Linked DNA regions of Homo sapiens: region 1 is reported to be linked to region 2. Evidence: microRNA targets listed by miRTarBase, many of them from high-throughput screens and not tested one by one. Region 2 holds a microRNA gene; the other region holds the end of a gene's coding sequence.
Evidence for each region. Region 2 holds the annotated microRNA hsa-miR-3664-5p (AACUCUGUCUUCACUCAUGAGU, at 1,783-1,804, shown strand). A microRNA usually pairs through its seed, bases 2 to 8, with sites in the 3' UTR of a target mRNA and lowers its output. Matches are read on the target gene's strand: a 7mer-m8 pairs with bases 2 to 8, a 7mer-A1 pairs with bases 2 to 7 and ends in A, and an 8mer does both.

Region 1: miRTarBase lists KIAA1143 as a target of hsa-miR-3664-5p. The part of its 3' UTR that is shown has no 7-base or 8-base seed match.

What each region holds. Positions count from the first base shown.
Region 1 is chr3:44,750,755-44,754,165 of GRCh38, forward strand. It overlaps KIAA1143, which reads right to left. Exons shown (of 3, transcript NM_020696.4): 3 at 1-2,798. The coding sequence ends at 2,587. Among named protein-coding and RNA genes, the nearest start is that of KIAA1143, 9.2 kb to the right of the region's middle.
Region 2 is chr11:70,870,720-70,874,130 of GRCh38, reverse strand. It overlaps MIR3664 (microRNA 3664), which reads left to right and starts at 1,763; the gene lies at 1,763-1,861. All of the region lies in intron 11 of SHANK2 (SH3 and multiple ankyrin repeat domains 2), which reads left to right.

The sequences.
Region 1 (3,411 bases), not on the chromosome of region 2:
CATGGACTGAAATGAACTAATGGAAGACTGAAATAATTTGTATGGCTTTTGTTGTTTGAAATATTGCTACTTCTTTTTGTTTTTTCAGAGTCTGAATAATCTTTTTATTTTGAGCTATTTATAGCCTTGAAATACACTTTAAGTGTATTGAGTATTCTAATTTCTCCAGAATTTGTAAACTATTTATGAATATTCTTAATTCATGGCATTTGTCTGTATAAAGTTAATAACCACGTTTTCTTTTGTAATAGGGCACAATTGAAACCGGTTACTTTCTCAGGACTTTGACTGAAATGGCCTTGTGAAATGTTCTAGCAAAGCCAATCTAGGAGAGTCTATATGGACAATGATTCTTGTTGCACTTTGTGTGGGTAATCAGGCCCAGTATATGGGACTGCAGTTTATTTTGAAGTTAGGTCGGTTCTGCTGTGATTTGTCTTTGGTGGAAGTGGTAGACTGGAGACAGAAATATTGTATGTCCCTAAATTAATATAGCTCCCAACAACCAATCCCTCATTATACCTTTAACTGCAACCACCAGACACAACGGCTAGGAATAACAGCAGAGGTAGGAATGGGAGTTAGCGGGATTGCAACTTCCCTATCCTATTACCAACGCTTGTCCAAGGATTTTATGGAAAGCCTGGATAACATTGCTCAAAGTATTGTCACCTTACAAATTCGGATAGGCTCCTTGGCAGTGGTCGCTTTGCAAAATCGAAGGGGACTAGATCTCCTAACTGCTGAAACAGGTGGCTTATGTATTTTCCTAGAAGAAGAATGCTGTTTTGATGTCAACCAATCAGGATTAGTAAGGGACACCACCTGAAAACTAGCTGACTGGGCCTCTAAAATATGACAACAGCTGGGGCACCTAAAGGGCACTAAGTTGGGTTTCATGGCTCCCTCCCTTGGCCAGCCCATTATTAATGATTATATTTGCCTTGGTTTTTGGACCATATCTGTTAAATCTTTTAACCAAATCCATTTCCTTTTGCCTAGAGACCACCAAGTTAGATGATCATGTGACAAGATTTCTAGCCAGTTTCAGGAGAAGACACCACCGGCCATCAAGAAGCTACCCTGTCTCCCCTAGACAAAGCAGGGTGAGAGTTACGTGATCTCCAATAGGTAGGGACTGTGTCCCAAGTTAGCATGAAGCAGTTACAGAAGAAAGACCCTCAGTCTCTCAGCCTCCCATAAAGATTTACGAGGATCACGTCTCTCAGGGGGAAAATGAGGCAGGAGAATAGGGTCTGGAGACAGGGAACCTAAGGCTGATTCACATTGACTTCCTAGAACTGAATCAAAAGGAAAACCCCACCTCTCCATACCTAAGTAACAAAAGGATCAGAGGCTACTCCCTTTGCAATCCCCTTGCCTTTTCTGCATTGCAGATGAAAAATGAAAGTGCCTCTGATTGGTCCCCTCCTGCAACCAATCAGACTGGTCATAGGCCAAGTCCTCATTTACACAGGAGTATAACTTTGTAACTTCACTTCAGCCTCTGATTGGTCACTTTCTGCACCAATCAGACAGGTCACGGGCCACTACTTCATTTACACAGGGTGTACGCCAAGTAACCAATGGCAAACCTCTAGAGGATATTCATTGCTTTGTGCGTTTTGTTCAATTATTTGTCCAAAATGCCAAGAACCTGGACACCCTCCACCAGTAACAGTTTGACCAGTTATTTATTGTATTACTTAGGACTGCATTTGGCTGCATATAAAAGAAACCTGACCAAGGCCTAATTAAGCACAGTGTTTATTCTTCTCACTACCAAGAAGTCAGAGGTCAGCAATCCAAGCTGGTGTAGCAGCTCCTCCAGGCATGTCAGCAAGGAGCCAAGCTCTGAGTCTTTTTACTAACATGACCCAAAGCACATGGCTGCCTTCCTTATGCCTAAAAGTGGCTCTGGTACTCAGGTTTTATCTCTGCACTCCAAGTAGGATGAAAAGATAAGAGCAAAGGCTCATGTTTGCCAAGTCTGTCCTTTTGTAACAAAAAACCCAGCAGCTTTATCAAGCAGAATTCCACCTGTATTTCTTAACTTGCCAGAGCTGAGTCTCATGGCCACCCTTAGCAGGAGTTGGGGAGGTATTTTTAACAAGGCACATTATCATCTCCCCCACCCAAAGTGGAGCTATTGCTAATGAAAAAGATACAATGAGATGTTTATGAAATTATCTGTAGCTATTAATGTCAGGTTTTTGAAATTTACTGACCTGGAAGAATACTCGTAATGCAATGTCAAGTGAGAAGCAGGACAAAGAACATTTGCAATACAGTTGTATTTATAAAATTTTGTTTACACACAAAAAATGTATTTTGCTTAAAAATATAATTTACATATATATACAACCACACAAGGGAAATAACAAAATGTTAATACTAGCTAATTTCTATAGAGTTGGCATTTTAAGTCAGAGGGGTATTGATGAATAGATGTAGTTTATTAAATTTTTTTCTCTATTTCCTAAACTTTCTATAAAGAACTTGTAGTATCTTTATAATAGGAAAAAATGTGATTTTAATGAACACTCCATATACTTTCAAAGTAGACTAAATTCAAAATATTTACACTTACTCATTTTCATCTTCGTTGTCAAAAGAAAGGAGGCTACTATTTTTAATTTGTTTTTGTGAGTTCTTTTTGACCGAGTCCTGATTTACTTCATCTTCATTTGGCTTCTTCTTTTTTGAGCTTGCTGTTAAACCTGAATATTTTTCATCTGAGGGATGCTTGACTGGTTTTCGATATATGATTCTTCCATCGGCTGGAGTTGGTTCTTCATCTGAGCAAAAACAGAATTTTTAAGAACTTTCTTCTCCTCATTATTTTGCCTTTACCTTAGAAGCAAATAATAAGAAAATCTCATATTGTATTTAAGGATATCCCTGAATCTGATTCAGTCTGGTCTTCTCCATTGTTTCTAGCTATATTGCCCTCAAGGCATGCAGTTACTTAATAAAAACTCACATGCTAAAGTATTCTATAATATTGTCAGTTCCCAATTACAATCAGGTTGTATTTTTAAGTAGTTTGAAAAGTGACTGTTTGGAACTACAGCATTTTCCCCTAAAGCAATGTAGTAAATGTTCAGAAATAATGAAAAATATACTACATATCATACCAAACTTCAGGCAGTAATGAAATACACCTTTTTTGACTGGTTTATAAGTCTAACCATCTATTTAAAAAAAAAAAATAGGATGCTTTTACTTAAATTCACACTTAATCCTGGTAACAACCCAATAGGTACAATTATTTCCATTTTACTGATGAGGAAATCGAGGCTGAGAGGTGTAATAACTTGCTCAAGGTTACACATCTGGTAAGTGTCAAAGCTAAGGCTTGAACCCGGAACTGCCACCTTGAAACACACCACACTACTAAATAAAATAAAC
Region 2 (3,411 bases):
ATAGGATAGATTAGATAGATGGATTGATAGATAAGATGGATGGATGGATGAATGGATGGATCTATAGGTAGATGGATAGATGGCTAGATGGAGGAATTTCTGTGTACTGTTCACATGTTCTTTAGTCTGTTCAAAAATGTACTTTGCATTGGGATGCTGCCCCCAGCCTGCCTACATCATGCCTTTTTCCTGATGACACGTGTTCCTGTCACTGACGCCCGGGAGCTGTTTTTGAGGGCAGCTTGCCCAGCGTGCTAGTGACAGGAGGCTGGTGCTAGGAATGAAGGTTATTTGGTCTTCTCACTGGCATCACTGTTTGGTATTCTAATCCCATGAGATCGTTGTAAACAATAGCAAAGTTGTTCATGAACTGGCAAAAAAAAAAAAAATGGTAAATGGAGGAAGCAATGGCTGGCTGTGAGCAGGGGACGCACTCAATGTCCTTTGCAGAGTGAGCAGGGTGGATTAAGTGGTTGCTGCGGGCTCTGGCCTGTGCTGCCATCTTTGCAGTGACCCTGAAGAAGAGAACTGCCCCAGATGGGACTGTGGAACGTCTCTCCTGAAGAAGCCCCGAAAGGGTGTGTGGCAGCCGCTCCTCCTTCATGGGACCACTGCTAGAAGGTTAGGGATCCCAACTGCCTCACCTCTGGGCAGCCCCTCCTCCTCCACGGAACTGCTGTTGGAAGGTTAGGGATCCTGCCTGCCTCCCCTCTGCTGTTTCCCATTTCCTGTTTGCCTATTGAAAGTGTCTGGGGCCGTTGGGCCCTCCTGTCTCATGAATGGGTGTGATTCCTGGAAGCCCTGCAAGTCTCGACCTTGTCAGCTCTCACCTGCCCTCCTCTTCCTCATGGGTTTTGTCAGAGGATGTTAATGCCTTCCAAGCAAATTGTATCAAATGCATTTGAAAGGCAAAACTCATTGTTTAGTGTCTGAGAATAGCCTCTGAGTGCTGGGATGCCACGGTTGCTGTGGCAACGGCTCTTTGTTTTAGGGAACCACAAACATATCATTCTATAAACTGCAGGGCCCAAGCTGCAGGTTTCACCTTCCTGAGGGTCGCCACCCGGGAGGCAGAGGCACCAGGATGGACGTGGGAACTACCTCCGCTCTTCCTTTCTCACAGGTGCCCAGGATGTCTTTAGCTTTTGTAATGTTTGGGGCTGGGGGAGGTGGAGGTCATGAGTGTGGGGAGAGGGCAGACAGTGGATATGTGCTCCTCCTGCCCCGAGGAGCTGGGCTCTACAGGGCATCGTGGGGTCCCTTCCTCTTAGCAATCAATGCCATGTTCCACTGTGGCCCCAGACTCCAGCACCAAGCAAAGCAGCCCCCACGACCCTTAGGACAATGAGGGGTGAAAATTGCCACCCATCAGTTTTCAAGTGGTCAGTGTGGAGGAAAACAGGGACCCGCAGGTGGCCAGAACGTGGAGGAGATACACCAGGGAGCCGGAAGTAATGTGGTCCAGGGACCCATCTCTCATTCCACGTAGCTCACGGACCTGTGTGCCCCTGACTCTGGTCTGTGGGGGGCCCCTCTGTATGGGGGCCCCCTATTCCCTCCATCTGAGGGTCTCTCTTCCCTCCATCCAGCCACTTGGTCGTTTGCACCCACTGTGTCCACCAAGCGCTTCTAGGGAAGGGTCTTGTCCTTTTTTCTCCCCGTCCCGCCGAGCCTCCACCTCCAAGCCTGCATCCTACTTGTCTTTCCTCTTCATGCGTGTGGGGTTTTTTTCCCCTCCTTTCCACTGTGCACCCCGTCTCCTCTGTAAACTTGAAGGTAGGGAACTCTGTCTTCACTCATGAGTACCTTCCAACACGAGCTCTCAGGAGTAAAGACAGAGTTCCCTACCTTCAATGTGGATCTGCAAAAAGATCTGAAAAGCGAATGCCTTCTCCGTAGCTCGTTGGCAGTAGTACTTGACCTGAACTGATTTGAGGCTATTTATAGTTTTTATTTATCCTACTTAGCATGATTATTCATCCGTGCCCTGAAGGACTCCTCCCGCAATTGGCAATGGGACACTGCCCAGACCCACTGGCGGTGTGACGTAACAGGCCACACACGCATCATCCTACTGCTGCAGAAGCAGGCAGCGTGCACATGCCAAGGCACCTCTGGCTCTGGTGTTCAGGGATGTCGTCGTGGGGCTGTATTTGTTGAATGAACAAGAGTTCTTAATCCAAGAATAATGCTGGGTTTACCTTTCAAGTAGTTCAAAGGCTTCTTTCAAGACGGTGTTGTTATGGAGGATGGGATGCGTCTTGCCTTAAATATTAATAGAAATCGTATATGGAAATCTCAGACGGCTTCAAAGAGTCTCTCAGTCAAATTCAGATGGGGACTGTGCCTCTTTCCTGGCTGTCCCCTCCCAGCCCCCATGTGGCCACAGTTTGCTGTAAAACCCTGCAGGGCCCCTGAGTACCAGGTGTGTCTGGCCCGTGTTGCCTTTCAACATGAACTCTTTCTTGACTTTCTTCTCCATCAGGGATATGGTCATATTTATAATATTTGTCTCGACCTCACTTTCCTTTCTCTCCCTGCCCTGCTTGTTCAGCAAATGTGTTGGGGAATCCGCAGGGTCCCAGGCACAGCCTCTCCCTCCAGGGGCTCACAGGCTCCATGGCACACAGATGTGGCCTCAGCACGTGAAGGAGGCTCAGTGCCAGGCTATGTGGCTCATCTCAGAAGGTGGTGTGGCCCCAGGTTCTGTGGTTGCCCTTGCTCTGCTCTCTGCTCCCCACCCCCGCCCATCCTGCCCTGCTCCTATGGTGCCAGTGATCTTCGGGGCTGGTGGCTTGCAGAGCGCTCCCTGGACCTCCTCTTGGACCCTCAGACTCATCTCCTGCAGAGCCTGCCACCAGGCGAGCCCAGACCCCTGACTCCCCTTTGAAGTGTGTCCCTGCAAATGCATATGTTGAAGTATCACCCTGAGGATCTCAGAGTGTGACCTTGTTTAGAGGTAGGGTCTTTACAGAAGTCATCAGCTGAAAATGAGGTCATTAGATTGGGCCCTAATCCAGTAGGACTGATATTCTTATAAAAAGAGGAAATGGGACCGGGTGCAGTGGCTCATGCTTATAATCCCAGCACTTTGGGAGGCTGAGGCGGATGGATCACCTGAAGTCAGGAGTTCGAGACCAGCCTGGCCAACATGGTGAAACCCCGTCTCTACTAAAAATACAAAGATTAGCCGGGCGTGGTGGCGGGTGCCTGTAGTCCCAGCTACTTGGGTGGCTGAGGCAGGAGAATCACTTGAATCTGTGTGGGCGGAGGCTGCAGTGAGCCGAGATCGTGCCACTGCACTCCAGCCTGGGCGACACAGCAAGACTCCATCTCAAATAAATAAATGAATGAATGAATGAATGAAATGTGGCCACAGCCATGCACTCGGAGCAAACCTCACACAAAGAT